Homo sapiens: one gene and its partners. The main gene of each other region encodes a partner of the protein of the gene in region 3 in a complex. Each region holds a gene or a part of one and is shown on either strand. Other genes may lie near its edges. The genes, in order: RBM10, KIF11 and MYSM1.

Evidence for each region.
Region 1: MYSM1 (region 3) and RBM10 share a complex: the UniProt entries of both Homo sapiens proteins name them as parts of the large chromatin remodeling complex.
Region 2: MYSM1 (region 3) and KIF11 share a complex: the UniProt entries of both Homo sapiens proteins name them as parts of the large chromatin remodeling complex.

Annotation. Positions count from the first base shown.
Region 1 is NC_000023.11:47,167,455-47,178,170, reverse strand, and holds part of RBM10 (RNA-binding protein 10), read right to left. Parts: intron 8,857-10,716; coding exon 8,673-8,856; intron 7,144-8,672; coding exon 6,913-7,143; intron 5,044-6,912; coding exon 4,974-5,043; intron 3,153-4,973; coding exon 3,079-3,152; intron 1,672-3,078; coding exon 1,585-1,671; intron 1-1,584. UniProt on the Homo sapiens protein: Binds to ssRNA containing the consensus sequence 5'-AGGUAA-3'. May be involved in post-transcriptional processing, most probably in mRNA splicing. Binds to RNA homopolymers, with a preference for poly(G) and poly(U) and little for poly(A).
Region 2 is NC_000010.11:92,587,093-92,597,801, reverse strand, and holds the start of KIF11 (kinesin-like protein KIF11), read right to left. Parts: upstream 4,673-10,709; 5' UTR 4,427-4,672; coding exon 4,350-4,426; intron 944-4,349; exon of another isoform or gene 513-943; intron 1-512. UniProt on the Homo sapiens protein: Motor protein required for establishing a bipolar spindle and thus contributing to chromosome congression during mitosis. Required in non-mitotic cells for transport of secretory proteins from the Golgi complex to the cell surface.
Region 3 is NC_000001.11:58,660,678-58,671,393, forward strand, and holds part of MYSM1 (deubiquitinase MYSM1), read right to left. Parts: intron 8,362-10,716; coding exon 8,307-8,361; intron 8,006-8,306; coding exon 7,955-8,005; intron 7,890-7,954; coding exon of another isoform or gene 7,884-7,889; exon of another isoform or gene 7,753-7,883; intron 7,245-7,752; coding exon 7,170-7,244; intron 6,550-7,169; coding exon 6,361-6,549; intron 4,955-6,360; coding exon 4,822-4,954; intron 2,846-4,821; exon of another isoform or gene 2,773-2,845; intron 835-2,772; coding exon 729-834; intron 551-728; coding exon 493-550; intron 1-492. UniProt on the Homo sapiens protein: Metalloprotease with deubiquitinase activity that plays important regulator roles in hematopoietic stem cell function, blood cell production and immune response.

The DNA of each region.
Region 1 (10,716 bases), on a different chromosome or scaffold from region 3:
AGCAGAGGAGGAGAGGCGTGGGTAGTCAGAGGTGGTTTTGAGGAATGTTCCAGGTGAGGGCGTGGGAGAAAGAGGACAAGAGGCCAGCATACCAGAGAGGGCTCCACAGTGAGTGGGTGAGAGCGTGACGATTGGCATGAGCAGCGGGAATGGCGAGGGAGGGAAGGTGGCGTTTCTGTGATGGAAGTGACAGGACCTGGTGGCCAACAGGATGCAGGGGAGGGGAAGGAGTTCAAGAGAATTCCCTGGTTTTGGGCTGGGCGTGGTGGCTCACGCCTGTAATCCCAGCACTTTGGGAGGCTGAGGCGTGAGGACTGCTTGAGCTCAGGAGTTCAAGACCAGCCTGGCAAACATGACGAAACCCTGTCTCTACCAAAAAAAATAAAAATAAAAAGGCAAAAATTAGTGGGTGTGGTGGCATGCGCCTGTGGTCCCAGCTACTCTGGAGGCTGATGGCTTGAGCGCTGGAGACAGAGGTTGCAGTGAGCCCAGATTGCTGCACTCCAGCCTGGGCGACAGAGCCAGATCCTGTCTCAAAAAAAAAAAAAAGAGAATTCCCTGGTTTTGAGGCTATCTGGAAACACAGGAAGGAGTTCCACTGTCACTTTGTCTTTATCTCTCCAGAAATGTTAAGCACCAATCCTCTGATGGGACTTTTTTTTTTAAAACAGATGCACCACTCTCCCTGACTAGGCAGAGTACTTCCTGGGGAGAGGGTTGGGGCCTCTACAAACTGTGGAATCACAATGCTGGCCCCAGGGCAGACCTGAAGCCACTGTGGCATCCAAGTCCCTGTGATCAGGAGCAAGGCACAGGGCACAGCTAAAGGTTCACCCATGGTTCCACCTCTCTGAGCCTCAGCTTCCCCTCAGGGAAGACAGAGGTGACTACAAAACCACAGCCTCCAGTTTCAGGTTTGACTTGGCCTGGTCAGAGTGGCCTTCAGGCTTGAGCTACCTGCTATGGGCTCTCAGAACGCTCTGTGCTTTTCTTTCATGATTACAGTTAACAATTCGACTGTGTTAAATGTGGGCCAGGCACTGTTCTGAGTGTTACTCTCTCATTAACACAGCTGAATCCTCCCAACCACCTTTTGGGAGAGGTGTCATTAATATTCACATTTTAGAGATGGGGAAAGTGAGGCAAAGAGAGGCTAAGCACCTTGGCCAAAATCAAGGCCGATCTGGGATAGTCTCATTTCAGCCAGTCTGGCTCTGAAGCCCACATTCTCCACACCACCACTTCAAGTCTACACTGTCACTAATTCATCATCCACGTATATATTTCCTTAAAGTCTACTGGAACTCCAGGCAAGACTGCATTTTAGGAGGACAGAGCCTGCACCAAGTGAACGCTCACTACACATTTGTATATGGCTGGCTAGGAATGGTGACTACTCAAGCTGAGCTAGCAAGGGATAGAGAATGAGAGAGAGAGAGAGAGAGAGAGAGAGAGACAGAGGGAGAGGAGAGATTGGGGGAGGGGGAGAGATGGAGGGAGAAAGAGCGGGAGAGGAAGGGAGAGATCGCCGCCACTGCTGTTGCTGTCTCTGTCCATGACAACTGCTGCCCACCGCCCCTGTACCTTATTGCACAGCCAGTCCTCATTGATCTTGGGCTTGGGGTCACTGTAGTGCATCGACACCTTCTGGCCCAGGATGTTGAGGGAGTGCTGCGGGAAAAAGCAGAGCACAGTGAGGTCCAGGCAGCAGTGCCCCACGCACCGTTTCAGCATAGGAGAAGAGAGTGAGCGAGCCCTTCAGCTGGATGGATGAGGGACAGGGAACGGAGGGAGGTCGGAGAGCGGATGGAGGGAAGAAGGGAGGTAGGGAGGGAAAGCGCCACAGCTCTCGGGCGCAGCTGTTTGCTGCTCTGCCGGGCACACGCACGCACACATGTGAACACACACCACCAGGCACACAGTGTTCGGCTGACCGACGCTTGCCGGACAGTGGGGAGAAACCCCCACTCGGCCCTGACACTGCCAGGCCACACCCAGGGCCAGGACTACACAGGCTACACTTGGGGGGTGAGGGGAGACAGGGAGGGGGAGGGAGAGGGGAGAAAAAGAGAAAGAGAGCGCAGGTGCGCTAGTGCTGGAGAAGGGGAAAAAGAAAGAGCCATTTCGAACAGATGGAAGTTTCTGCCATGAGGCCGTCTTCCCATGGATGGCTGGGTCCTGGGCCCATGGCACTAGCCTACCAACCCCGAGGAGACGGCCCCAGGGCTGCCTCTGCCGGGATCCCCCATTCTACCACCTCTGCCCCTTCCTCCCCTGAAACTGCTCTCCAGTGCCCTACACCAGGGATCTGGGCAGGGGTGGGTGACCAGGCAGATCTTTGGGTCTCGGAGGTCCCAAAGCTGCTGAGTTGGGATCCCGTGCCAGGCTTGGGGGACAGGCTCCCCCCAGGGCTGACTGTGCACAGGTCCTTGCCGAGAAGACAGAGCTGCCTGAGGTGGTGCCTCCTGCGAGTGTGGAGATGTGATAGGAAGGGTAGGGGCGGCGAAGTGAGGCCAGGGTGTCGATAAAACTATCATACTCGACGGGAACTTGAGATCAACAGAGCAGTGCTGTCCCCTTGCATGAAAATCAAAGGGCCAAATTCACATGCAGGGATGGGGCTGACAAAATGAGTCTTGCTAGTGACTGTGCCAATAGCTAAGCTCCTCACTGGCAGGACTTCCAGTGGTCCTGAGGGTGGAATGAGGTCCTGGCTCTGGCTAACCCCAGAGAGGGGTGCCCCCCCCACCAGCCCCGGGGGAGTGGGAAGCTAGGTGAAAGAACCCACCCTGGCAGCTCTTTCTCTGAACGCTCAGCTGGGAGAGGTGAAGGGGCAGCACTAGTGCCTGGTGGTAGGAAGGGGCCAGTGGTGAGTGTGGGCTCTGGATGAGAAGCCCAGTGGGGTAGCGAGAGATGGGAAGAGGAGATAGTGAGGGTCAGGAAGGGGAGAGAGGGGGCGGGGGGATGGGACACAGGGCCACAGGGCAGGGAACTGTGTCCATAAGAATCAGGCGATGGGGAGCGCTCGATTACAAAGTAGTATTTGTTTGGGGGGGGGTTCAAGTGCGGCAAAGCAACCTGATTGGCTTCCATCCATCGTGTAGCGTCCTGCAAGTGACTAAACTCGACGAAGGCGAAGCCCCGGCTCTGACCTGGAGACAGCATTCAGATACAGACGCAGTGGGTTAGTCAACAGCTTTGGACACACGGCGTTCCCGGGGGCGGGACCCGAGGGGAGAGGACGGGGGGCAGAGAGGGAAAGGGGAAGAGGAAAAAGGAAGAAAGAGAAAGAGGCAATCAGAGAGAGAAAGACTAGCGGGCGTGGGGGGCAAGGTAGATGGCCAGGTGGGGCAGGGAAGGTGGAGGGAGAAAAACAGAGGCCAGAGGTCGGTAGGGGGAGAGACACACACACCAACTGGGAAGAGAGAGATGGGGCTCGGGCAGACCTGCCCAGCCAGCCTGGGGTGACAGAGACGGAGAGAAGCAGCTGGGAGGGAAAGAATACGAGAGATCTGCCTCCAAAGAAGGAGGGAGGGGATGGTGGGCAGGCTGCTGGCTCCACACAAGCCACAATACGTAACTCCAGGGCGGGCCCAGCTCAAGGCCAGGGGTGCCCAGGAGGGGTCCTGTAACAGGTGTTGAATCACAGGAGCAAAAGAGAAGCTGGGCCAGGCTGCTCTGCGAGGCTAGGAAGGCTCTTGGCCCATTGGAAACCAGGGGCGGTTAAAGACACGACCTCATCTCAGCCTCACCGCAGCGCAGGGGAGGCGGGCCTCGCTAGGGAGCCACCTCAGGGCCACAGGGTGGAGACTACAGCCACAAACAGTCCAGGTTCCCCTGGACAAAAGGAGAATGGTGGCCAGGATTGGCCAGGAGGACCTTAGAGGTAAGAATCAATGGGTGCCTGGGAGAAGCGCCCAGGGCCATTGAGAAGGCCGCACCTGGAACACCTCCTTGTGGAGAGAGAGACCCAGAAGCTGTCCGTGTGTGGTGTAGTTGGGGTGATGCAGAGCAAGACCTACATGCAACCAAGATTCCAGGCTTGGGAAAGGGATTCAGGGTTGAGGCCTCAGGATAGCATGTCCTTTAGAGGCAGATACATGGGGAGGGCTTGGATGAGAGGGGCTTGGGGGGGCATGCTTAATGTTCAAAAGAATAACCGTTAGGATGCATAGGAGGATGGAATGAATAATATAGTTGGGGGGGGCAGAGAGAGAGAAAGAGAGAGAGGGAGAAAGAGAGAGAGAGAGAGAGAGAGAGAGAGAGAGAGAGAGAGAGAGATGGAGGTGTGGGGAGGAGAGACTGAGAGATGGAGAGAGAAGCCCAGGCAGAGTGAGGCCCCACTGTGCCTGCCTTGGGGAGCCTGGGCAGAGGTCCTGTAGAGACAACTCCCCCCACCACCACCCTGCTAACCTCAGGCCAGCTCCAAGCAGCCTGCAAGAGGGAGGGAGGGAGGGAACAGGCGAGGCCAGGAAGTCCTGGCTGTTCCTTGGGATGTGTCCTTGGATAAGAGCCATCCCCTGCTTCCCCCTTGGGACACACATGTGGGACCACCACGTCAGAGCTACTTTCTGGTCAGAGGCTGTTACCAAAAAATGTGGGGGAAAGTGAGGGGCAGAGGAAGGAGAAGAAAGGAGAGGGAAGGGAGTGTATGGGAGGGGGTTACCATCTCAGATACTCAGAGTCCCAGAGAGGAGGTGCCTGGGAGCCTGGCCCTGGCCCTGACCCCAGGGAGCACCCAGCTCAGCTCAGAGCTGCACCCCTGCCCCGACAGCCCCATTGAAGAGGCTTTTGGCTGGAGCTGTGAGGAGAGTGTGGGGAGTGGGAGAGAAGAGAGGGCACCCCCCACGCTGCCCATTCCCAGCTGTGGCAGGAAGGTGGTGGAGGGAGTGGGGGAGAAGGCAGAGGCAGGAGGGAGATTCGGAGGCTGAGGCTGGCCACTTGAAGGGGAGGGCACTAGAACAAAAGCTCACCTGAAGATTTGTTCCGCATCAGCCGAACCTCCCGTGCTTGCACGCCGTGCGACTGCAGCTGGCCACGGATCTATACGGGGAGATACAGAGTAGGGCAGGCTCAGCACAATGGGGCCGCTGGGTACCTGAGGCTGGCTGGAGGCCTCTGGATCCCGAGGGGTCATCGGTGATGTGCACACAGTCTCCTCCGCCTCTTTCGCAGCTTTTCCCTGAGTGACAACAGCCCCAGGCCCACACCAGTTCACAGTCTTGACTTTCAGCCCCAGACTTGCAGAAAGTGAATCAAATGAAGAAATGGGCACAGAGCAAGGTAAAGCATGGCAGCAGGACGACCCTCAGGGGCACAGAGAACAAGAGAGCAAGTGAGCCAGCCACTTAAGAACGGTGGGCAGGGTGATCTGACAAAGGGCTCGCTGGCAGCCACGAAGTAAGGAAACCTGGGATGCAATTCTTGCCCTTGGCAAGGGGATAACCCGCACCCCCGCCCCTGCCCTGCTGACCTGCAGCTTGCGTCAAAAGAGATCCATGACATAAATGTCAAACTGGGGAGGACAGGAGTCTGAGCAAATCCCAGCCATGTGCCCTAGACCATGACTGTAGCAATAACTTAGGGTGGAGACAAAAAGCAAAAAGATGTAGTCCTGGGGATTGCTTCCCAGATGGAGTAGGCCAGAGGGAAACTGCAGAGGCAATTCAGGATTTGGCCCAGGTGAGGCAGGGTCTCTAGGCCAGTGAGGTCTCTCACTGAGGACCAGGAGCCTATGCCAGCCATTCTTGGGAAGGAGTCTTCATGTCTCTGGGCCTCAGTTTCCCCACCAGGTTAAACAACAGACAGGACATTAGCCTTACACACACCCATACACAGGGTGAAAAGGAAAAACACACAGAAGAGCTTATCAGGACTCCAAACTCAGGGAAGGCTGAGGAAGCAGCAAAAAGTGGGCTCTAGGGTCCAGCTGCCCGGGTTCAGACTCCAGCTCTGCTCTGCCACTCACTGGCTATGAGACCTGGGGCAAGTCACATTCCCACTCAGGGCTTGGTTTCCTCATCCGAAGGATGGAATACAAAGAGTACCTTCCCTGCTGGGCTGCCATGGGGACTGAATCATACCTAACACATGGCCCACCCTGAGATACATTCTCAACAAATGTCAGCAACCAGCTACTGTCTGACCCTGAACAGGGCAGGTGGGCCAGACCTTAGAAACCCTCAAATACACAAGTGGGATTTTCTCTGTTACAAAATGAGCAGCTAGCAGATTTCAGAGGAGGGCTGATCAGAGAATTCATGGGGGTAGGGGGTGAGGGGCGGCGGAGTAGACTAAGAAGGACCAAGATCAGGACACTATTCTTGGAGGTTATTCTGGTAGGCCTCGTGGGGCTTCAGTGTGGCTGTCATGAGAAGTATGTATGAAAAGGAAACAGGAGGAAAGGGAGGCAGGCGTGGAGGCTGTTAGCAGCCACCCAAGGCTCTGAGGCCAGGCCAGGCTGCTGACAAAAAAGGATGGGGGAAAAAGAGAAGGAAATTTCAGAAAATCCCATCCCTCCCCCAATGGTTACAGGGCCCCAGTGTCATCTCTGCTACCAGCAATAGCCAGCACTGGCCCGGTGAGCGTCTGGCCCATGATGCACACATGCAAAATGGCTGGATGACCAGTGGAATGTGCAGGACTGCTCTTCTCCCGCCCATACCCACCACTACCAGACACCCATGGCCAATGTCCCTTGGCCAAGCCGGCCTCTCTGACACTCCTCCCTCCAGACCGGGGGGCCGATGGGACCTGCCCACAGAGGACGGATCAGTGCTGGGGGATAGGAGCTGGAGGGGGAGAAGGGATGAAAGGCGCTGAGGTTGCAGGTGAGGGAGGGGTGGGGAGAAGTTGAGGGCCCTGGAGGAGACCCAGCCTGGCCTCCTGCCCGGGGCCATGGGGGGCACGTACGTCATCCTCAGTGGCTGCCTGTGGCAGCATCCTCAGCATGACGATGTTACTGGCCTTCTCCTCCTCCTCCTCATCCTCCTCCTCCTCCTCCTCCTCCCCTTGCTCGGTCCGATAGTCCTGGTCCCGATAGTCGCCGTCTCGGGGGAAGCCTGGCGGGCCGGTGGGGCTGTGCCTGTGCCGCCGCCGCCGCCTACGCTGAGTCTCGGAGCCCGGGGAGGCCTCGTAGGAATCCTGGCCGACAGAATGAGATGAGTGACACCAGACGGGCAGTCAGTCTGGGCAGGCCTAGGAGCTGGCCGCTGGCTCTGTGAGGCAGGCAGGCTCTGAAAGCCAGGGATGTGCGGGCTCCGGCTAAAGGCTCAGGCAGGCAGGGTGGGCAGGCCCCGGCCTGCAATCTTTCTGGGACTGTAAATTCTCCATGGGGTCCTTTTGGGGGCTGCCTTCAGTGGGTGGGGAGAGGTAGGTGACAGTATTGGTGTGGGGGGAACTCCCAAAGGTAGCTGACAAGACACAGCTTAAACCTCCTTGGGGCAAGATGGCCTGGGGTCAGCACACCAGACCCCACCCTTGATTTTCCTCTCCTCTCTGGCCAGCTCAGGGGGTGTGCTCAATTGCTTCACTGTACCACCGAAGGCTGCATGTCTCCTACGGTTCCACCCTGCAACCAAGCTGGGGGCATAAGAACAGCTTCAGATCTCAGCCAGAGCCAGGCAGCAGGAGCTGGTGGAGGTGGTGTGAGGGCTGCAGACACTCCCTCCTCAGTCCCTGATCCTCAGCCTTGGCCAGTCCTCCACCACACACCACGCTCAAAACGGTATGGCTGTTGGGCTCTGGGCTGTTGCCCAATCCATCCATTCCAGGACTAAGCAGAGCAGGCCTGGGGCCAAAGCCCTCCCGCCCACAGTGGGGAAGCACCAGATAACTTGGTGCTCCATTCCCACCCTGGCCAGGGCCCAGTGCTCCTGGAGACGTCTGGGCACAGCTTGACAGCTGCCACTGGAGAAGCCTGGCAGTCCACCAAAGGGGTTTTTGCCCTGGACCCTCCAGAGGGCAGTGGGCAGCTCACAGACTGCCCCCCAGGGCTGGGCTTGCAAGAACTCCCTTCCCAGCCTGCTGGACAGGAGAGCTGCCTGCTCGCATGGACCAGGTCCCTGACTGCCCCTCCAACTGGGATTCCCCTAAGGCAAGCCTGTTTCTTCCCCTCGGGTGGGGGCTCCCTGATGGTGTAAACATCGCGCCTCATCCCGCAGGCTAGGGTGAACTACCCAACATGGCACTGGCTTCTCCAGAAGGGTCCTTCCCTTCTGTCTAGGGGCTCTATCACCACTGGGAATGCCCATGGCTGGCCTCCCAGAGCTCCTCAGCTTGGTGGTCTGCAGTCCCCTTGTTGTCCTCCCAACCCCAGACGCCGGGTCCCATGGAAGAGGCTCTTCAAGTGCCCAAGTTGGCTGGGAGCGGGCAGTACAGGGTTCACAGTGAGCCATGGGCCCGAACTGAACAACAGGGAGAAAGGGAAAGAGTGGTGGCCAGGGGCCCTCAGAAGTACAGAGCCAAGCATGTGGAAGCCAGGGAGACCCAGGTTGGGAGAGGAGCCCTCAGAGAGGGGAGTGGGAACAGGCCCTCCAGGTGAGGCAAAGCCACCGAGCACAGTCTGAAGGCACGGGAGTGGAGAGCTGCCTGCACACGGTGCTGCAGCCAGACACAGAGGGCCCTTGGGAGCCCATCCCAGCCAGGCCTGGCGCAGCGCGCCCCCTCCTCACCTCCGCACTCTGCTCCTCAGATGAGTCGTCATAGTCATGCTTGCCCTCCTGGCTGCCATACTCGCGAGGATATGAACGGTAGTCCATGTCCCGGTAGTCGTGGTCTCGGCTGCGGTTCTCCCCACCATCATCCTGCGAGCGGTCAGTGGCTCCATAGCGGCCAGTCCTGTCACCACGACCACCACTAGTGGAGGAAGAAGGATGGGGAGGGATCAGAAGGTTGCCCTTTCTAAAAGGTGCAAGAGGCCCAGGTGATGTGTTCTCGTAGGGTTTTGGTTTTTTTGGAGGAGCATACAACAGAAGTGAGGTGCCCTTCTGATCCTATCAGAGAAAGAAGTACATGATACCACCATGACTTAGCTCTGGTGATGTTAACCATGGTCATCTGGTTAAGGCAGTGTCTGCCAGGTTTCTCACCCTGTAAACTTTCTATTTTTCCCTCCCCCTACTCTATTCTTTGGAAGCCCTCAGGCCCGCCCCCATACAGGGATTCCTAAATCCCTGCTCCACATCTCTGAAGTGCAACCTGCCTCTCTCCATCCCTATGTCACTCTCTGGTCCATGCCACTGGCTTCCCTCATGGGGCACCTTGGTTGTGGCCTGGCTGTTCTCCTCACTTCTACCTGGACCTCCCCAGTTCAGTCTCTACATCCCAAATCCCAAATGTGAGTGCTTTCTAAGGCAAAGCCACTCAAACCCATCTCACTCCCTTTAGTGGCTCCCCCTCAGTCTCAGGATCAAATACCAAAATGCTCACCAAGGTCTCATTCGGCTTGCAGGATCCCCGGGGGTGAGGCTCCTCCTCCCTGTCTTGCACCACGTCCCCTGCCCCTGCTTCACTGTCACCTTGCCGACACTAGCAGCTCTTTCATTAAAATTTCTCCTACCGCAATAACTGTAAAATAATGATCTCAAAGCTGATTTCATCTGCATTTCTTTTCTTTTTTTTTTGAGAATGGATCTGGCACTGTTGCCCAGGCTGGAGGGCAGTGGCATTATCAGGGCTCACTGCAGCCTCAACCTCCCAAGCTCAAGCCATCCTCCCACCTCAGCCTCCTGAGTAGTTGGGACCACAGGCACGCACCACCACGCCCAGCTCATTTTTGTATTTTTTGTAGAGATGGGGTTTCACCACATTGCCAGGCTGGTCTCAAATTCCTGGGCTTAAGTGATCCACCCACCTCAGCCTTCCAAAGTGCTGGGATTACAGGCGTCCACCACTGTGCATGGCCTAATCTGTGTTTCTTTGGTGAGTTAAAAAATTACTAGAATATGGGCTCCAGGAAATGAGGGGACCCTTAGCTCACTGCCATATTCCCTAGCACTCAGTAGGCGCTCAACAATTATTTTGAACAAATAATGACTAAAAAAGCATTCTAAGAGCAACCAATATATGTTTATTTAAAATAGAAAAAACTAGATGCCACAGAAGAATGCTACTATACTAACAGGATTCCAATTCTGGTCGGGAACAACATTAGAATGTCCGTTATCAACAGCATTCTTAACATTATTCTAAAGACACTAGCTAAAGCAATTAAACAGGGAAGGAAGAAAAGAGGTTAAAAGCTGGAAAGGAGAAGGTAAAATTACCATTATTTGTAAATGATATGAGAGTATACCTGCAAAGCCTAAGAGAATCAACTGAAAAACTTGTTATAAATAATAAATCAGTAAGGATGCTGGGTACAAATTAATGTAACCACTGTTTAGAAAATAGAAAGGTCCCAAGTACAATTCATCAAAAAGGTTAAATACCTAGACATGTGCAAGATATTATGACTATACTTCACATATATACCAGGATATATTTGAAATAGATCAAAGATTTAAACATAAGAAATGAAACCATAGGCCAGGCGTGGGTGGCACCCTGGGAGGCCGAGGTGGGCAGATCACTTGAGGTCAGGAATTCGAGACCAGCCTGGCCAACATGGTGAAACCCCATCTCTACCAAAAATACAAAAATTAGCTGGGTGTGGTGGCATACGCCTGTAATCTCAGCTACTTGGGAGGCTGAGGCAGGAGAATCGCTTGAACCCGG
Region 2 (10,709 bases), on a different chromosome or scaffold from region 3:
CGCATGCCTGTAATCCCAGCTACTCTAGAGGCTGAGGCAGGAAAATGGCTTGAACCCAGGAGGCGGAGGTTGCAGTAAGCCAAGATCGTACCAATGCACTCCAGCCTAGGCAACGAGAGCAAAATTCCGTCTCAAAAAACAAACAAACAAACAAACAAACAAACCCAAGGGAAAAAAAAAGACTTTATCTTCCTTTTCTCCATCATAGTGCAAGATCAAGGTAAAAAAAAGAGAACTCTGGCCAGATGAGGGCTCACACTCATAATCCCAGCACTTTGGGAGGCCAAAATGGGTGGATCACTTGAGGCCAGTAGTTCAAGACCAGCCTGGCCAACAAGGCGAAACCCCATCTCTACTAAAAATACAAAAAATTAGCCAGGCATGGTGGTGCACACCTGTAATCCCAGATACTTGGGAGGCTGAAGCATAAGAATTGCTTGAACCTGACAGGCAGAGGTTACAGTGAGCCGAGACTGTGCCACTGCACTCCAGCCTGGGTGACAGAACGATTTTCTGTCTCAACATCTGTATGGAGGAGACTGGAGATGACTGACCCCAGCAGCCAAGGTGTTGGAGCAGCTCATAGGCCAGACCCCTGTGTTCTCCAAAGTCAAATACATTGTCAGATCCTTTGGCATCAGGAGAAGTGAAGATTGCCACCCACTGCACAAAGGGCCAAAGCAGAAGAAACCCTGAAGAAAGGTCTAAAGATGCAGGAGTGTGAATCAAGAAAGAACAACTTCTCAGATACTGGAAACTTTGGTTTGGAGATCCAGGAACACACAGATTTGGGTATCAAATGTGACCCATGCATTGGTATCTACAGCCTGGACTTCTGTATGGTGCTGGGTAGGCCTGGTTTCAGCACTGCAGACACATAGCACAGAACAGGCTGCACTGGGGCCAAACACAGAATCAACAAAGAGGCCATGCACTGGTTCCAAAAAGAAAAAGAAAGGAAAAGACCACACGGTATCAATGAGTAAAAAGGCAAACCACAGTAATGGGGAAAAAATTTTTGCCGTTTATGTATCTGAAAATATCCAAAATATATAGAAAATTCCTAAAACTCAACAACAAAAAAGCAAACCAATTTAAAAATGGGCAAAGGACTTAAACAGACATTTCTCCAAAGATACACAAAATGGCCAGTAAACACATGAAAAGATGCTCAACATCATTAATCATTAGGGAAATACAAATCAAAACTACAATGAGATAGCACCTCACACCCAATGGATGGCTACTTGAAAAAAAAAAAAGAAACAGAAAATAAACGTTGGTGAGGATGTGGAGAAATTGGAACCCTTATGCACTGTTGGTAGGAATGTAAAATGGTCCAGCCACTGTGGAAAATAGTTTGTCGGTTCCTCAAAAACTTTAAAATAGAATTATCATATGATCCAGCAATTACAATTCTGGGTAAATACCCAAAAGAATTGAAAACCCATATTCATAGCAACATTATTCATAATAGCTAAAAGTAAGAAGTAACTCAAGGCCGGGCTCCGTAGCTCACGCCTGTAATCCCGGCTCTTAGGGAGGCCAAGGCGGGCAGATCACAAGGTCAGGAGATGGAGACCATCCTGGCTAATATGGTGAAACCCCGTCTCTACTAAAAATACAAAAAATTAGCCGGGAGAGATGGCAGGCGCCTGTAGTCCCAGCTCCTTGGGAGGCTGAGGCAGGAGAATGGCGTGAACCCGGGAGATGGAGCTTGCAGTGTGAGCCAAGACCGCGCCACTGCACTCCAGCCTGGGCAACAGAGCGAGACTCGGTCTCAAAAACAACAACAACAAAAAAAGAAGTAACTCAAGTATCCATTGACATATGAAGGGACAAGCAAAATGTGGTATATACATATAATAAATACTATGCAGCCTTAAAAAGGAAGAAAACCCTGACATTTGCTACAACATGGTCCAACCTGGAGGACATTATGCCTAAGTGGAATGAGCAAGTCACAAAAGGATAAATACTGTATTATGACTCCACTTTATGAAGTACTTAGAGTAGTCAAAATCATAAGACAGTCGAATGGTAGGTGTCGGGTTGATGGGAGAGGGAAATGGGGAGTTATTGTTTAATGTGTATAGAGTTTCAGTTTTTCATGATGAAAAGAGTTATGGAGATGGATGGTAGTAATTGTTGCAGAATATTATGTATTTAATATCACTGAACTGTACACTTAAAAGTGGTTAAGATGTTAAATTTTATATTATGTGTGTTTGAAAATGACTTTTTAAATTGGGAAAAAAATAGGGGATGGAATAGGAGGGACATAAGAAAGAGAACCAGTAGCGCATTATGTAGGGATCTGTAAACTTTAACCTGTGGGTCAAACCTGGCCCCTGCCCTGACAGATTTAAGAATGATTTTTACAGTTTTAAAGTGTTCTTAAAAAAAAAAAGATCAGAAAATAATGTGACAGAAACCACATGTAAAGGGGTACAGTAGCTCACGCCTATAATCCCAGCACTTTGGGAGGCCAAGGTGGGTGGATTCTCTGAGGTCAGGAGTTCGAGACCAGCCTGGCCAACATGGTGAAACCCCATCTCTACTAAAAATACAAAAATTAGCCAGGCATGGCGGTGTGCGCCTGTAATCCCAGCTACCTGAGAGGCTGAAGTGGGAAAATTGCTTGAATCCGGGAGGCGGAGGTTGCAGTGAGCTGAGATTGCACCACTGCACTACGGCCTAAGAGAGCGAGACTCCGTCTCAAAAAAAACTGATAAACCACATGTGATCTGCAAAGCCTAAAGTATTTAAATAAAATAAATATTTATTTCTCTGGGCCCTTTACAGAAAAGGCTTACCAACCCCTGAGGACCTCGCAACTCATAAGTTGCCTATTTACTAAAGCTTAATGCTTAATGACAGACGCACCAGGAAGGCTATTTGAAAGAAAAAGGCTAATCTGAAAAAAAAAATCTCTTTACACAAAAATTATTGTAAATATTAGACACAAGCAAAGAACTATTCTATTCATTGGTGATAAAGTAAATCTCTTCTAAGACTTGAAATGTATACGGATCATAAACATCAAGTTCAAGATAATGGTTAACAGTGGCTGGAGGAAAAGGGATGGAGAGGGAAAAGGGGGGCTCCAGCAATGATTGTTTTGTTTCTTAATCTGGGTGATGAATATACAAATGTTTATTACATTGTTCTTAATAACTTTTTGTAAGTCTGAAATATTTTGTAACTAACATTAAAAAAGAAATTAAATAAATGCATACGGAAAAGGTAATATTGCCTGGTTTTATTAAACAACCAAAATAATTTTAAAATTTGCACTTGTTATATGCACTGCATTTTTAAATAAAAATCTTCAAACAACTAACTACTAACAGAAGCCCCAGAGTACAACAACTAGTAAGTGTCACTGGCTAGACTTAAGATTGCCACCCAATTTCCTCTCTGACACCTTGTTTAGAAACCTAGTCATCACCTTCGATATCCACAATTCAAGTTACCAGGGCTGAGTAAACAATAGCCTAAGAAAGTTTGTTGATACAAGTTTTTCTAAAAAATAACCTTTTAATTTTAGAATACTTTGGGGTTTACAGAAAAGTTGCAACAGCAACTGTTAACAGCCACAAAAACGGACACACAAAACACACATACTCAGTAAACTGTGGAGAGCCTCTAAAAAGTTGAATAAATCAATTCTAACTAAGCAGCAGTTTCTAGCTTATTTTAAAATTGGGAAGTTATTTGGAAACCAGTCAGGGGAGGGCCGAACACCCCTCCACATCCCTTTATCTCGAAATATCCGTTTAGTTTGGTCTATGAACAAACACGCAGATGAAAGGGAAAACTGCAGCACAATCAGAAATTTACACTAGCTTAACTTGTCTTGATCTTTTAAAAAACATAAACTCACTTTATTAATTTTTAATGTTTAAAGACAGAGATGTTTACTTGTTTAGTAGGGATGCAGAAAATATTGCATCTAGAATAAAGAGAACAGTGATTGATTGCTTTTTAGAGGTAATAATACCAACGTAAGTGCTTAACCATCTGCAAAATAGGTATTCAGTCTTACTTCCAAACTGACAAACTACATGAAGTAGCATATAAAAGTGACACCTACATCTTTATTGACTATAGTTTAAACATAAGAACGCACTTTTCAGTATGGAACAGTGATCAAATCAAACATGTTATTTTCTCCTAAAAACCACATACACACAGCAACCGGGTGTCATTTTTATTGAACAGAACGCGGAGAACCAAGAAACTGGGACCCTCAGGAAATGCAAATAAAATCCCTCTCCCTGGACCGCGCAGTAGGGGGCCCAGCAGCGAAGCCGCAGCGCTCGGAATCCTGTCAGCCCTCTCCCTACCTGCATCTCACCACCACCTGGATGTTCTTCCCCTTCTCCTCTTTCTTCTTCGCAGACGAATTTGGCTGCGACGCCATGACGGTCCCCGCCAAAAAATCAAGGCCCGGCCGCGGACCTGGGCGCTGTGAGGGGCGGAGGGGCTTGGCGGCCGACAGGGGCCGGAGTCTCCCTGGTCCCTCTCGGGCGCTGGCGTGGCCTGGAGGACCGACGCACGCAGGTCGGCGTCCCCGCTCTCTACCCGGTACTCTGGCCGTGGCGTTTGTCCCGCGCCAGTCGGAGCCGCCAAATCACTAATCTCGTCTCCGCCCGAATCCCCAGAAACTAAGCAACGACTCGGCGCCTCAATTTGAAAAAGAGACAGAGTAGCCGGACCAATGGCTGCGCTGGCGCGCAAGGCACCATGGGATGCAGTATCCTCACTGGAGCCCCGCCCCCGGAGCGTGGCCTACGGGAACGTAAAGAGGTGGTCTGTCTGCTTGCTCCGGAACTTGGTAGTCCAGAGCCGAGACGCTAGAATTGAGTGTGGAACTTTTAGCGTAGCGTGGCTCAACTTACATAACGTCCCTAGCCCAAAATTCCCTCAGCTGCAGAGAGGAAATAATAGTAACCATCTCAGAGGGTTAGGGTGAGAATTAATGAGCTTGTGGAAGTAAATAGATTGGAATATATGGTAAGCACTCGCCATGATTATAATTATTAGAGAATTGTAAGAGAGGGCAGTAGAAGCACAGAAGAGAGGTCCAAAGCGAGCCGCCATCCCGGAGGCAGAGACCAGAATAGTCTTTGTGTGTGTGTGTGTGTGTGTGTGTGTGTGAGAGACGGAGTCTTGCTCTTGTCACCCAGGCTGGAGTGCAGTGGCGCGATCTCGGCTCATTGCAACCTCCGCCTCGCAGGTTCAAGCGATTCTGCTGCTTCAGCCCCCGAGTAGCTGGGATTACAGGTGCGTGCCACCACGCCCGGCTAATATTTGTATTTTCAGTAGAGATGTGGTTTCACCATGTTGGCCAGGCTGGTCTCGAACTCCTGACCTCAGATGATCCACCCGCCTCGGCCTCCCAAAGTGCTGGGATTACAGGCGTGAGCCACCGCGCCCGGTCCAGAATAGGCTTGAAGAATAATTAATGTTGGGGCCCGGTGGCTCAGGCCTGTAATCCCAACACTTTAACGGGCCGAGGTAGGACGATAACTTAAGTTCCAGGAGTTTGAGACCAGTCTGGGCGACATAGGGAGACCCCCCTCCCCGCGCCTCCCAACGGGTCTCAACAAAAAATAGAGGGGAAAAAATAGCCTGGTGTGGTGATGCGTGCCTTTTGGTCCCATCTACTCGGGATGCTGAGGAAGAAGGATCGCTGAACACGGGAGATAGAGGCTGCAGTGAGCCGGGATTATGTCGCTGGATTACTCCAGCATAGGCGACAGAGCAATGCCCTTTCTCAAAAAGAAAATAATAATAATAATAATTAGGAAGTGTTAAGCGATAAGGCTACTACAGGTTCCAAATCGTGATGAAATGGACACTGGACGCCATTTGGAGGACTCTGAATTTATCCTTTAGTCATCATCTCTAAGTGACTCCAGGCAAGAAAGCAGGGTCCGCCTCGATTTTAGAACGACTGCACTGACCGAGTGACGCAGGCCGCGGGTGCGCTGCGCTCCCCGTTTCTGCGCGGCGCAGCGGGCGGTGGCATCTCAAGGAAGCTGCGCAAACATCCGCCGCCCCGGCCTACGGATCCCAGCATGCAGCGCTCGCTGGGGCCTGCGCGCCGTCGGTCACCTCCGGCCTGCTGCGGGAGAACTTTTCGGCGTCTTGGCAGTGCCTGGCGTGACTCGACCGCTGTAGGTGTGGTACGCCGCACCAGGAAATACTGAAACAGGAGCCTATTGTTATGAATAACTTTTAAAATCTTAAGGAAATTGAACACTTGAACAAAGGATTTTTAGCAAAGCAATTTTATTTTTGCGCAGAGGGGTGCCTTTTTGGCCAGTCGCCTTGAGAGCACACCTGAACAAAGGGGCAGGAGTCTATTTTTGACGCAAGTCCTGCCCCTGTATCTTTTTCCCATTGGCTGGGGTCGGGTCGTATAATCTAAACTAATCCCGGTTGGCTAAACATTTGATTTTTTTTAGCTAAGGTGGGTACTTAAAAGAAAGCGGACAGGAAAGGGGAAGGGGTGTCTGTAATGAGCTAAAAAGTTAGTCCCTTCAAATAAGGAAAGGAATGTGAGCTGGTATTGATAAGGCCTAGTATTGTGGCGTGCCTGGGCATTTAACAAAAGCAAAAAAGGAGAAAAAGAGAAAAAAGGGAGGGTACTATGAATTAAAGAATAAAAGATTGATCGGGTTATTTGAAGAGAAACATCATATCCCACACTATGTTGTAGTCGGTTCCTGGAACTGCGCTTCTGGCCCACACAACCCATGGGAACCTAAATGTCGTGTTAGTCTATTAAGTAACAACCCGGTGTAGTGGAAAGCTCTGATGTCCTTTTTGTGTTCCTCCACTTGCTAATCCCCTACATGCGCCCCCCCGCACAACCCGCCCCAAGGAAATAACTGCATCTACAGCTCCTTCTGCTGGTCATCTCTATTTTGAGTAGCCAGCTGTCTATTGATATCTCCTCTTAGGTGGCTCGCTGGCATTTCAAAATGGGACCTATCTCCACCCTAATCTTTTCTCATCTGGATACTGGTGCTAACCAGAACCTTTGATTCCTCCACGTGTAGTGGAGTCCTGTTGATTTTATCTCCCCTCCGATGATCACCCTAGTACAAGGCTCTTATCTCTTCCCTGAACAAATGTCATCTACCTCCTTAACAAGTTTCTCTTCTGCCCTTTTCTCCTACCCCCAACTCCTCCACTACATTTACTCAGCAAGGGAAGTGTCTTTTAAGAAATAAGAAAATAAGATTATGCTCTTCATCTGCTTTTTAATCTTACATTACCTTCTCATTTGTATTTGGAATTAAATCCAAACTCATTACCATGCTCTGTAGGGTCCTCATGATCTGGCCCTTGTCCATACCACCAACTAAAGGCACTTTCCAAAAATCTCATTACCATGCTTCAGAGCTCCTAGCTTTTTCCTGTGGCCAGGCCCTTGTACCTGACGTACCCTCTGCCCTGAACTCTGTTTGGCTCTTTGCATGGCTTACCCATCTCATTCTTCAGCTCTCAGTTGAACTTTTTCTTTTAAAAACACCTCTTCTGACCACCCTATCTAAAGCACATTCTTCATAATTTTCTTTTTTTTTTTTTGAGACGGAGTCTTGTCCTGGTCCCCCATGCTGAAGTGCAGTGGCGGGATCTCGGCTCACCGCAACCTCCGCCTCCTGGGTTCAAGCAATTCTTGTGCCTCAGCCTCCTGAATAGGTGGGATTACAAGTGCCCCACCACGCCCGGCTAATTTTTTTTTATATTTTTAATAGAGACTCGGTTTCACCATGTTGGCCAGGCTAGTCTCGAACTCCTGGCCTCAAGTAATCTGCCCTCCTTGGCCTCCCAAAGTGCTGGAATTACAGATGTGAGCCACTGCACCTGGCCTTCCTCTTATAACCTTCTATCTCAGAACCCTGTCTATTTTCTTCATAACACTACAGGCAATATATTGTGTGTATTGACAATATATTATATTGTCAATATATTGTGTGTCTCCCTGGATAGAATGTAAGTTTCATTAGGGACCCTGTCTTTTTGTTCAGTATTATTTTCCCAGTGTCTTGAACAAGCCTTACACCAAAGTAAGGCTTTACTCAATAAATATATATTGAGTACCTGAAGGAAATTACTTCACCTCTATCAGCCTTGGTTTCCTTATCTGTAAAATGGAGATAATAATAATTACTATTATTGTGAGGATTAAAATAACATATAAAGTACCTGGGATACATATAAAGTACACTGGCTGGGCACGGTGGCTCATGCCTTTAATCCCAGCACTTTGGGAGGCCGAGATGGGCAGATCATAAGGTCAGGAATTCAAGACCAGTTTGGCCAATAAATATGGTAAAACCCCGTCTCTACTAAAAATACAAAAAAAATTAGCCAGGTGTGGTGGAGGGCGCCTATAGTCCCAGCTATTCAGGAGGCTGAAGCAGGAGAATCGCTTCAACCCAGGAGGTAGAGGTTGCAGTGAGCCGAGATGGCACCACTGGACTCCAGCCTGGGTGACAGAGCTAGACTCTGTCTCAAAAAAAAAAAAAATCCCCTTTTCTTTCTTTTTTTTTTTTTGAGTCAGGGTCTTGCTCTATCACCAAGGCTGGAGTACAATACACCATCACGGCTCACTGAAGCCTGGACCTCCTGGGCTCAAGGGATCCTCCCATCTCAGCCTCCTGAGTAGCTGGGACTATAGGCACAAGCCACCAGACCTGGCTAATTTTTTTTTCCTTTGGTAGATATGGGGGTCTCCCTATGCTGCCCAGGCTGGTCTTGAACTCCTGGTCTCAAGTAATCCTCCCACCTCAGCCTCCTAAACTGCTGGAATTATAGGCATAAGCTACCCTGCTGGGCCGTCTTTCCTTTCTCTTTAGCAAATATTCAAACAATATATATGTTAACAGTCACATGGGTTGACGCAAGAAATTCAAGAGTCTCCATTTGATAATAGATACAGCTACCATTTACCTAGGGTTTACTGTGAGTCAGACTCCATGCTAAAGGCTTTGTGTGTATCATCTCATTTAATCTTCAGAACAACTTTGTGAAGTAGGAACTATTATTTTCTACTATTTTATCAGTAAACTAGCCAAATAAGTTTGTCTGTAGTCATACAGCATATCACTGTACTTACACTTTAATCATAGTATAAGGTTAACTATTAGGGAAGGAACTTAGAATTCTTTCCCATTCCAACTCCCAGGTTCTTAACTACTGTCTTTCCCATTGAGTTTTTTTCATTTGCTAAGTGCACATGTATTCTTTTTTTTTTTTTTAATTGAGATGGAGTACTGCTGTGTCGCCAGGCTGGAGTACAGTGGCACAATCTTGGCTCACTGCAACCTCTGCCTCCCGGGTTCAAGCAATTCTCATGCCTCAGCCTCTGAATAGCTGGGTTTACAGGCACGCGCTACCACACCCAGCTAATTTTTGTATTTTTAGTAGAGACGAGGTTTCGCCATGTTGGCCAGGATGGTCTCGAACTCCTGACCTCGTGATCCACCCACCTCAGCCTCCCAAAGTGCTGAGATTACAGGCATGAGCCACCATGCCTGGTCACATCCACTTTTCTCATACTCTTCTTGAAATGCTTACTGTGGGCCTGGCAGTGAATATACAGGCTGAATTATTGTACTTGCCCTCAGGGCTAAGTCTAATAGAGATAGTTAGGGTCTAATGGCCCCATGTAAGTGTTTTGTTGCACTAAGCAGTCCCTGAAATGTCATTTTACATTGCCTTTGTTGAGTTCAAACTACTCAGCCTAATAATCAACATTTCTCGGCTGGGCACGGAGGCTTACGCCCGTAATCCCAGCACTTTGGGAGGCCAAGGCAGGTAGATCACCTGAGGTCAGGGGTTCGAGACCATCCTGGCCAACATGGCGAAACCCCATCTCTACTAAAAATACAAAAATTAGCTGGGTGTGATGGCACGTGACTGTAATCCCAGCTACTTGGGAGGCTGAGGCAGGAGAATCGCTTGAACCCTGGAGGTGGAGGTTGCAGTGAGCCAAGATCACACCATTGCACTCCAGCCTGGGCAACAGAGCGAGGTTCCATCTCAAAACAAACAAATTAGCTGGGGCCGGGTGTGGTGGCTCACACCTGTAATCCCAGCACTTTGGAAGGCCAAGATGGGCAGATCACCAGGTCAGGAGTTTGAGACCATCCTAGCCAATATGGTGAAACCTTGTCTCTACTAAAAATACAAAAAAAAAAAAAAAAAAATTTAGCATGGTGGCGTGTGCCAGTGGTCCCAGCTACTCGGGAGACTGAGGCAGGAGAATCACTTGAACTTGGGAGGCAGAGGCTGCAGTGAGCCGAGATCACGCCACTACACACCAGCCTGGCGACACAGCAAGACTCCGTCTCAATAATAATAATAATAATTTAAGTCTAGTTAAACTGAATTCTAACAATGCAACATCGTTGCCCACGTGTTTGCTCTGGCATTTCTCTTTCAGGAGTATATGTACTTCTCGAATAAACTATTTTAAATTGATTTTTATTTTTCTTAAAGAAAAACATGGAGGCTGGGCATGGCAGCTCATACCTGTAATACCAGGCAGGAGAACTGCCTGAACCTGGGAGGCAGAAGTTGCAGTGAGCCAAGAGCATGCCACTGCACTCCAGCCTGGGTGACAGAGTATGACTTTGTCTCAAAAAAAAAAAAAAGAAAGAAAGAAAGAAAGGAAAGAAAGGAAA
Region 3 (10,716 bases):
TATTTAAAAAGACAAATGTTGCAGATCTACTAGCCTTCAATCATTACAGAAGCAAAACCTAGACGTGAACTGACAGAATTCAAAACTCTTATTTCCTATTAGAAAGTTAAATAAAATGACTATTTAAATTTAATTGTTAGATTTATACCATCATTCTTAAAAATGACCAATTGTTAAGGCTAAAATGGAAACATGGCACTTTCAAATTTAATAAAATAAGAAAAATGTTCTCCATTGTGTATAATAATAATCTGCTAAAATCAGCCAACACTGACAAATTTATTCTAAAATAGAATTTTTTCTATGTGCAAGCTTGGGCAACAAAAAACGTTACTAATTATCTCCTAGAAATTAATTTTCCAAAGGAAAAAGTAATAAAAGAAATATACAGAAAATTATCCACAAAGTATTAGGCATCATGGGAAAACACATTGAGATGAATAGCTTCAGAATCTGTGAACAATGGAACCAATTAAAATGAAGACAGCTTACTTTCTGCAAACAAGTCAGGTCAGAATCCCGGCGAAAGATTTTATCCATGGGGACGCTGCTGTAGGAAGAAATATGAAAACAAACTGGTGAAACGAATACTATAAACTAATCAGTTTCATAATAAACTATCACGGATGCCATACATCACAATTTTATATTTAACTTGGGTTTTCTCTGAAACATAATTTAATGAGCAACACTGCAGATGTGCAACCATCTCAAACCACAGTACATACCTATGGGAGAGCCTGTATTTTTCTATTATCCATCTTGTCTTTTCAAATACTAATCCCCACTGAGGTTCTTCTAACATCTGCTGTACTTCAAATTTGTAAGGTAAGCCTAGAAAAGCATAAAGAAGCACATTGTCATCAACTATTTCTTAACTCTCCAATCTCCTTTTAATTATACTTAAAATTCCCTTCGGTGTTTTTACAGCCATAGCTTTGCAGATCAGCTGAACAGCACTTTAAACATAGTGGGCATTCATTAAATATTTATTGCCCGATTGTACTTGGTCCACTAAGCATATTAATGCCAAGCTATTAATAATAATAATGAGTAAAAGTGCCATTTACATGACAATTCTACGCATGGCACTATGATGGGATGATCACGTAATTTATCACCTAAACCAAGAGACTTTTTGAATGAAAGAAGGTACTATTAATAATTATGCCTGAACCGCAGGTTTAAAGTGGGATTATCCTAGACAAACTAAGACATATTGCCATCCTAGTGATAATTAAAAATATATATATATACAGGTTATTAAGCTTACAACAATGCTGTAAGTTATTGTTTTTTTTTTAACAGGTGAGAAAACTGAAGCTGAGATACATTAAAAATCATATTTAGGCTAGCAAAGTGGCAGGACACAGATGTTAAAACCCAGCAGGTTTGCCTCACTTCTGAGCCCAAACTCATTCCACCTCCCTAGAAGAGCTAATCTAAGACTAGACAAGAGGATAGGATGAACTCTGGGGAGGCAGCAACTGCTTTGAGTCAAAGTTGTTATACTAAACTCTGGAGGAAAGAAAGAAGCCCAAGGGGTGAACATCATATATTCATCTAGAAAGGAAAAAATACCAAACGATGAGTTATCTTAGCAATTTTTCACATATCCTTCAAGACCCCCATGCAAATGCATCTATAGCATTTTTTTAAAAGCTCAGCTGATTCACTAGCAAAGGCTGATACCATCATAGTAACACTTATAATGCATACTATGTGCCACCTAAAACTTAATGTGAAATCACTTAAATGAAGTAGCTGCCATTATTCACCCCCCCCTTTTTTTTTTTTCGATGAGGACACTACGTCATAGAAAGGTTAACCTGCTCATGATCAGATATAAAAGGCATTGGCAGGATTTGAACCCAGGCAGTCAGGCTCGAGAGTTCTGCTTTTAACTTATACATAATACTGCCTCAACTGGGTTTCTACCATGGTAAGGAATAAATAAAATGCCAGCAAATCAGAAGGCATGGAAAAAAAAAAGGGGAAAAATACAATTATTTCCTCACAATGAAATAAAGCATAGCTTAAATGTCAATATGCTCTAAAAAGGCATTTTTTCAGGTGTTTGGAAGGAAAGGGGACAGCAAGCCTGATGATGATGACTGATCTTTTTTATTTAATTGCTCAATTTTCCTCTTCTCCAAAAACTTAAGAAGAGTGACACACTATAGTACACGGGGTATTAAGCAAACTCCTTATGGTGATAACAGTCATTTACTTGACATGCTTTGATTACTTACTAAACATGGATACCATCTATATAATGATAACCACCCACTGAAAACCTATTATTTGCTAAACACTTTACATATATTACTGACACACCTTACAACCATATACCTACTGTAAGCAAGGTAGTAATTTTTTCTCATTTTACAGATGTAGCAAAGGAGAATGAGGGAGTAGACTGCCCAAGGTAAAATAAGCAATAAATGTCAGAGCTGGGATCTGAATCCAGTAGAGTGACTCCTACTCTCAATGAAAGTTGAAGATGAAAATAAAGAGAGGTAAATAATGCATTTTCAATCTATGCTGATGCAAAAACATGAAAACATACACACAAATTATATACAGGTCTATTTGGTATTTTTAAGAATATTTTTTAAGTTAAAAAAGGTACTTTTAAAGTCAATAAGTTTCTTTTATAGAGAATATTTTTATCCACTAAAATATCAGAAGAAAACTGATCACTAAATATATTTCCTGCCTGTCACAAGTAAAGAAAACATTAAACCATTAGAGATATTGTAAAGATATGACCTGAGTTAAAAGTACTGTAGCACAAGGTATCCCATGGCTTCTAGAAAACCTTAATTCTTGCACCAGAGGATTTCTAAGGGCAAAGCAAAAGACCTAGGATTAAGATCTAATACGCAGTGTTAAGCATGGACAAGTCATTTACAAGACAGCTCTGTCCAATGGTAGCTCATGGGAGCATCATGGATAGTTCCCTCTAATGCTTTCAAGTAGTTCTTTCCCATCTGGGCTAGTTTATTCACATACATGTGCTGATCTGTACTTTGCTAAATACTCCAGGGATACTCTTCTACAAATCTCCAGAGTTCACTCTCCATTCTGCTTTCTGTTCTCTTGGGGCTCTGTCTCACAAACTCAGCTGTCTTGGTCTCCTTATCTCCATCACCTTAATTGAGTCGGCCTGGCTCTGGGTGGGTTTCTCCTTCTTGTGCCATATCTGAAAACCCTCTTAAGCAGTAAGCTAGGGTAATGTGGGGCTCTTTTCATTTGTTTCCCATCTCTTAGCAATCGTATTCCTTTGCTGCTAAATGTTGTGTTTAAATACCATTATTTTACATATTTTGTCCAGTTTTTTGGTAGTTTCAGACAAGTTCTTTTTACTTCATTTTGGCCAGAGTAGAATTCCATGAACTAAATTTTAAATTTCATGTAATTCTAATCAACTTACATTTAAAGTCACACGTACTGCTATTGTACTGGATAGCATCAGAATTGAGGTTCATTACCAAAACCTAGCAGTCTGTGAGATTATAAAATCAAGTCAGATGATGATTTAAAGATGGTTTAAAAATGATTTAAAGAGAACAAGTTAATTGCGATTCTTTTTATAAAACTGTACTGAGCTAAAGAATAATATGTATTATGTGCTATGCTCAAAATGGACATTCCAGACTAAAAGCTAATACCAATATTATTAATTCAGTAAAAACCCATAGTGTTGACCACCTCCTAGATGCAAAGCAATTTATTAGGTGCTACTTGAGAAAAAAGACAAATAAGACACAGTCCCTGCTCTTTGGGCATACAATTTATTAGGACTTGCTAAATAGATAAATTGCATTAAAAGACAAAGTGACCATGAAGGCAGGAATAAAGTGTTGCAGATACATAAAGAATAAAGCAACTAATAGTAAATAACATGGGGGCAGTGCTGGTAAATCTACATCAAATATAGGGCATCCAAGAGAGATCATTAAGAATGAAGAGAAATTAATTATTAAACAAATATTCATTTAGTATCTACTTTATGCCAGGCCTCATGCTAGAAACAGGATAGAAAAAATGGGTACAATACAGTATTTATTCTCAAAGAGCTCATAATCTAATGGGGAAGAGTACAATGTGGGGTAACTGTAGTGGCAGTGTCCAGGGGACCTGACCTATAGCAGTGGTAGTAATGACAGAATAAATATCCTAGAGTTATTTAGCCTACTGTTTCCTCTGATTATTTGCTTTCTAGCCACACTCCCTTCCTTTTCCTAGTCTGCTATACTAACTCCCTATCCGCCCAGAAATGTTTGGACTACAAGTGGACATAAACCTCAGGGGAATCAAGTCAGATGATGGTCTATGCCAACCAAATTCTTTCCTGAGATAGAATGGGAACAAAGAGAGATACAAATTGAGTTAGTCATTGTTAACCCTAAACCGGGAGGTGACAGAGAGCTGGTGGTCATTTTTTTTTTCATTTGCATGCCATCACAGAGAAAGCCAGTCTGCATTTATAAAAAAATTTTCATGAGAACAGAGACTGTTTTGTTTACTGCAACATCTCCAGTGCCTAGCATACACACTGCCTGGCCATAACTTTTCTCCATATTTCAATCCTTTTGCCCAGTGGCCATGGTAACAAAAGTGGGGACTTGAATATAGCAGGAGATTAAGAAACGGAAGAGGGTGGCTGCACTAGGGTGGCACCCAAATAATGATTCCCTAGTTGAGGGCACAAACTCTTGCATTAAATAATTTTAAACAGTTGCAAATCTTTTGATTTGTATGAGTCAAAGAAATAAGAGTAGAAAGAGGATAAAGTTATTTTTGTTGAAAACTTACGATAAGAGCCATCTGGGCTAATTTCCTCACTTATAACCAGGCAGGTAATCTGAGAATATGGTAAGGGATTATTTCGATTATAGGGACTAACAATCATCCCAATGAACTTTGCACCTCCTCTGGAGAAGTAACTCTACAATGACAAGAAAAATATAATTAGTTTCAACTATATAAATTCAAAAGCCAATATTTATCCATACTAACATTTTAAACATCTAATGGGGAAAAGCAGGAACAAAAAGGTGCATTAAAAAGTTCACATCTGGCCCGGCACAGTGGCCCACGCCTGTAATCCCAGCACTTTGGGAGACTGAGGCAGGCGGACTGCTTGAGGTCAGGTCAGCCTGATCAGGCTTGAGACCAGCCTGGCCAACATGGTGAAACCCCGTCTCTACCAAAAATAAAAAAATTAGCCAGGTGTAGTGGCACGTGCCTGTAACCCCAGCTACTCAGGAGGCTGAGGCAGCAGAATCCCTTAAACCTGGGAGACAGAGGTTGCAGTGAGTCGAGATCCCACCACTGCACTCTAGCCTGGGTGACAGAGTAAGACTATGTCTCTAAAAAAAAAAAAAGTTCACATCCAAACTGCAACTAAATCAAATGCCTTAGATATTCATCTCACACGGTACATTTTTCAGGCAAAAATGTGTTCAACCAAATCCAAAATGACCCTTAAAAATATAAAATGGCCTACACAATCTGTATTTGCCATGAATATATTTACTAATTGTATTCACCACCCTACATCTGTAATTCTTATCAATACAGTAATAATTTACAAATACCCTACAGCAAACCCAGTCACATATCAAGTGTAAAATCCCAGAATAAAACTTTTTCTTCAGCTATAAAAAATACATTATGTTTCTTATTACTTCAGTTGTATCTAGTCCCTGTCCTAGTTGTTCCCATCAATTTTTAAAGGCTCTGGGAGTATTTACCAGTGATACATTCATGGCTTGTTTGTACTTAATAAAATAACTGACTTTCTAAATGTTTACATAAACAATTATCAATCTTGCAATCAGAAAAAAAAATGCATGTTCTTTTAAAACCCCCAGTATATGTATTTTTTTTCTTTTTTTTTTTTTTGGCTGGGTGTGGTGGCTCATGCCTATAATCCCAGCACTTTTGGAGGCCGAGGCGGGCCAATCACCTGAGGTCAGGAGTTTGAGACCAGCCTGGCTAACATGGTGAAACCCTGTTTCTACTCAAACTACAAAAAATTAGCTAGGCGTGGTGGTGCACGCCTGTAATCCCAGCTACTTGGGAGGCTGAGGCAGGAGAATCACTTGAACCTAAGAGGCAGAGGTTGCAGTGAGCCAAGATCGTGCCATTGCACTCCAGCTTGGGCAACAAGAGCGAAACTCTGTCTCAAAAAAAAAATAATAATAAAAATAAATAAAAATAAACAAACAAAATCCCCAGTATAAAGAATATTAGAAATGTAATATGAAAAATGTTTAAAGTTTATCTATTTAAAAGGGAGCATTGAGGGGGTGTGCAACCATTTACAGAATATAAATATACATGTAATACCTGGTATTTAGCTTGTGTGTCAATATCTCGTAAGGAAGGATTAGGATCAAAAGCAGGATGAGAATGATACCATCCAATAACACTGAAGCCTCTAACAGCCAAGGTTTCTGAGGCCTGTGTTTGTGATACAGGATCCATCTCACACTGTAGTCCTGTACTCAGACTGTTACATGGTTCTGCTGCACAGACCTATAAACGATTGATCCTCAAATGATTATACTAAAATCCTGTTAATTCTATTACTCTAATGTTATAATTCTTTCAAAGATACGGAAACTTTTCAAGGCCAAGACTTTTATTTAACAATACCACAGTTGCCTTTAACTTGCAAATGACTTAAACTCCAAAAGTCTGATTATATGCTAGGAACTTAGCATGCATTTTTCTACTCAAACAAGGTCATAATAATGGTTAGTTTTCCAGGTCAGCCCACATAATACCTGTACAAAGGTATTCTTTCAATGACTCCTGTTACTTATGACAATAATTTCAACAGAATGATGCATACAAACTTTCAACTAAAGTGTTAGTACCTGTTTCTGGCCTCTTAGAAGTTGTAGCTTTTTACTAATAAAGGTAATGAGGACCCAAGGCCTGGCAATGTTCTCTCGGTGGTAAAAAGAAACAGGCGCTAGGCATATAGAATGTTAAGTCACTTCTGGGAATATATAACTTGCTACATTTGCATATTCTCATATATATCATAGGTAAAGTCTGTATTTTAATTATATTAACTGAATTCTATAAAAATATTTGGTATGGTAGTAGGACTAAATAACTAAAACATTTTTTTAAAAGAGAGAACTTACTTCAACTACTTTATCAACTTCTGAGTATCTTCCTCCTAACAGACCAATCACTTCTGCCATAGAAACATGAGCATGCTAAAAGAAATACAAGACAGACTTAGCCCAAACGCACAAACCCACCTGACAAAGTAACAAAACTCACTTATCATAAGAAAGTCATTTGTAAGTATAGCCATCATGCTTTTATAAAATAAAGTAGCATAGGAGAGGAACTAGATGCTAGGATCAGTGCACAGAAACTAAGATTTCAGGTCTATCTTCACTGCTGGCTGAGAAGCTTTCAACCAAACACTTAAAAATTCTCAGACTCTACTTTTGCAATTACAAAATGAAGATACCATTTACTCTCCCTACTCAAGGGAGGTATTATGTAAGGATACAAAGTAAAAATCACTCTAAATCCTTCTACACAAAGACATCACAAACACAAAAACTGTTGGAGGTATCGGTAGTTTAGTAAAAACAAAAAAACCCTCCAAATTACAGGAGTTGTGCTTTGTTTCAGTGATCTAAAAAGTGGCAGACACATATATTAGAAACTTAAAATAGGGTTAATGATGGTAAACAGTCTGCAAAAACTCACATTAATTTATTTTCTCTAAAATATGGAAACATGCAATTGTTTGGCTTTTCTCCAAAAGAAAAGACTTATTTTTAGATTCCTTGTAAAAGAGGACAGTTAAGATCCAAAATACACGTCTTCCATACTCTGTCTTACGCCTGCAATAAAAATACACAAGAGTAGAAATCAGAATAACTAAGTAAACACAATAGATTATCCTTACCAAATCCATTATTAAAAGTGCTTCTGAAGCCACTTTCACCTGAAATGGCTCCTGAAATATAAAAAACAAAACAAAACGGGGGAGCATAAAAATAGAGATTTTTGTTTTCCCCACCTGGAATGCCCACCCTGTTCTCCTTTATCCACCCCACCAAGTTCTCAGCACTAACCAAAGCTCAGCACAAACTAGACTTTTAAAACATTATGATTTAAAATTCCAGCAGGGAGAAATTCTCTCTCATTTTCAGTCTTTTTATACATATGCCTTGCACATACGGAAAAAGAGTAAGCATTTCCTGTTTGACGGGGAAGCGGGGATTGTCTACTGTCATTCATTAATGCATAAATAGTACCTGCTTTTCTTCACTAAAAAAATTACAAGGTATCAGTTGGAAGGGATCAAACGAGCTGAAAAAGAAAAAAAATTTTCAATACAATCTCAACAAGATTAGGAAAATAACATTTATTTGTAAATCTGAAAGTGTATATCAATAATCTAAACCCAAATTCTGTCTAAATGAGAGAGTTTTGTAGGAAATTCCATAAACCCTTTCGAAAGAAGCACTGTTCTTTTAGATTTAACAAGAACAAAAAAAAAACCCAGGAACTTTGAGATAAAGTTGCTCTGTTGTCTTAATTTCCTTTAACACTCAAAGAGGACACTATAAACTATCAGACATATGTCCCACACTAAAAGCAGATTTCAAAAAGTCCAATGAAAATATAATTAACTGTCATGAGACCCAAAAAAAGGTTCAAGAAAGATGGAAGTTTATCAAAAACACTTGTCAGTTCAATAATGTGCCCACTATAGAATAGGAACTTAAAACATTTTTTGAATGAATGAATGACAAACAGTTCTGGTAAAGATATTAATGTATTACTCCTATCATAAACTCTTCAAGTGAAAAAGTGGCCAGGTGCAGTGGCTCACATCTGTAATTCCAACACTTCAGGAGGCCGAGGTGGGCAGACCCCTTGAGCCTAGGAGTTTGAGACCAGCCTGGATAACATGGTGAAACCCCACCCCTACAAAAGAATTTCAAAACTAGCTGAGCGTGGTGGCGTGTGCCTGTAGTCCCAGCCACTCGGGAGGCTGAGGTGGGAGGATCACTTAAGCCCAGGAGGTGGAGGCTGCAGTGAGCCATGATTTCACCACTCTACTACTCCACTCCAGCCTGGGTGACAGAGTGAGACCCTGTCTCCAAAAAAAAAAAAAAAAAAAAAAAAAACAAAAAAGTGAAAAAGTAAAAAGAGGTGAAAAAGAGAGAACCTAAGCAAGGTCAAAAGCACACATAAATCTCAGAAATGTCAGTAAAGAATTGAGGCTTGAGAACTATATTAAGAACAATAAAAAGGTTTTTTAGGCTATCTTCAGGGAAAGAAAAACACACAGGAATACATTCGCATTAACACAACTGGAAGAGAGCAGGGCAATTCCATTTCCATTCAACCATAGATGGTTAGCTTCAAGAGAACATTTTGTTTTGCTTAATAATGTATCCCAAGTGATCAGAACCGTGCCTGACATATACAGTACACATTCAAAGATACTTGTTGAATAAAGAAAGACCTTTAAATTAGAAAGTGTTTAATCAACACAAAAAGAAACTGAAGGCCAAGATAGATGAGAAAATAGCACAGAAAGAACATCCTGGAGTACTTAAGAACCACGGATATGGAACCGCTGTCAGTGTTTGTTGAGGAACTGCAGAGAATGGGAAAGTTGCTGAAGGACTAGAAATAGACAATTATTGAGCTTGTTTCACAATACAAAAAAGCAGACTGCAGAAAAGGAGGAACTAGATGTTGAACAGTAGTAAAATTCTAGAAAAAATTATGAAACAGCTGATTTGTGATCCTTAACCAAGTGAAGAGGTGACTAAGTAAAATAATGAGTTCATGAAAAGTCATGATAAGTAGACCTTATTGTAGACACTATTGATAGGAATAATCTGTTAGAAACTAAAGACTTAAATATATTTTATCTGAAATTAAACAAGACATCCGATATGATTATCCTTCTGTATAAGATGAAGATATATGCGTTAATTGTGGTAATCTATATAGCTGATTGAAGAATGAATGTCTTCGTTGTTTAAATATATACAATGAGGTTTACATTTATTCAATTAAACATTGCAATCAGTGAGTAATGGCAGGAAAGGCAAGCTTATTGAAATGTTAATGATACAGTGCTACAAAGGCTAAAATGAGAAAAGTGGATCTGGATTCAAAAAGATCCTGAAGACCTTGAACAATGACTTGAAAATCACAATAAATATAAGTCTCACATTTAGAGTCAGAAAATCAATTATCTGGATACTGGATGAGGAGTCCTAGCTTATGGAGGACTATTTTTTACATAGTTTATCTAATTCAGTCTCACGACAACTGTGTAAGTTTTATTTTTACTTTAGAGAGGTAATATATACTGTAATGATTAGGGGTATGAACTCTTAAGCTTAACACTTGGGTTTAAAATCAACAGCTCCACTACTTGACAGCGTGAGCAAGTTATTAAACCTCTCTATGCCTCTCAGTTTCCTCATCTATAAAATGGGAGTGAGAACATTAACTAATGCACAGGGTTGTCATGAAGACTATATGAGCTAATAAATATAAAGTGCTTAAAATACAGCTAACAGTGTTATTTAAATTATTGTTTAATAAATGAGAACCTAAGGATTACCCGAGGACATTTATCAGGCAAAAATATGATCTAGTGGCATTCCTGGATATCTTCTTTTAAAAGGTACACTG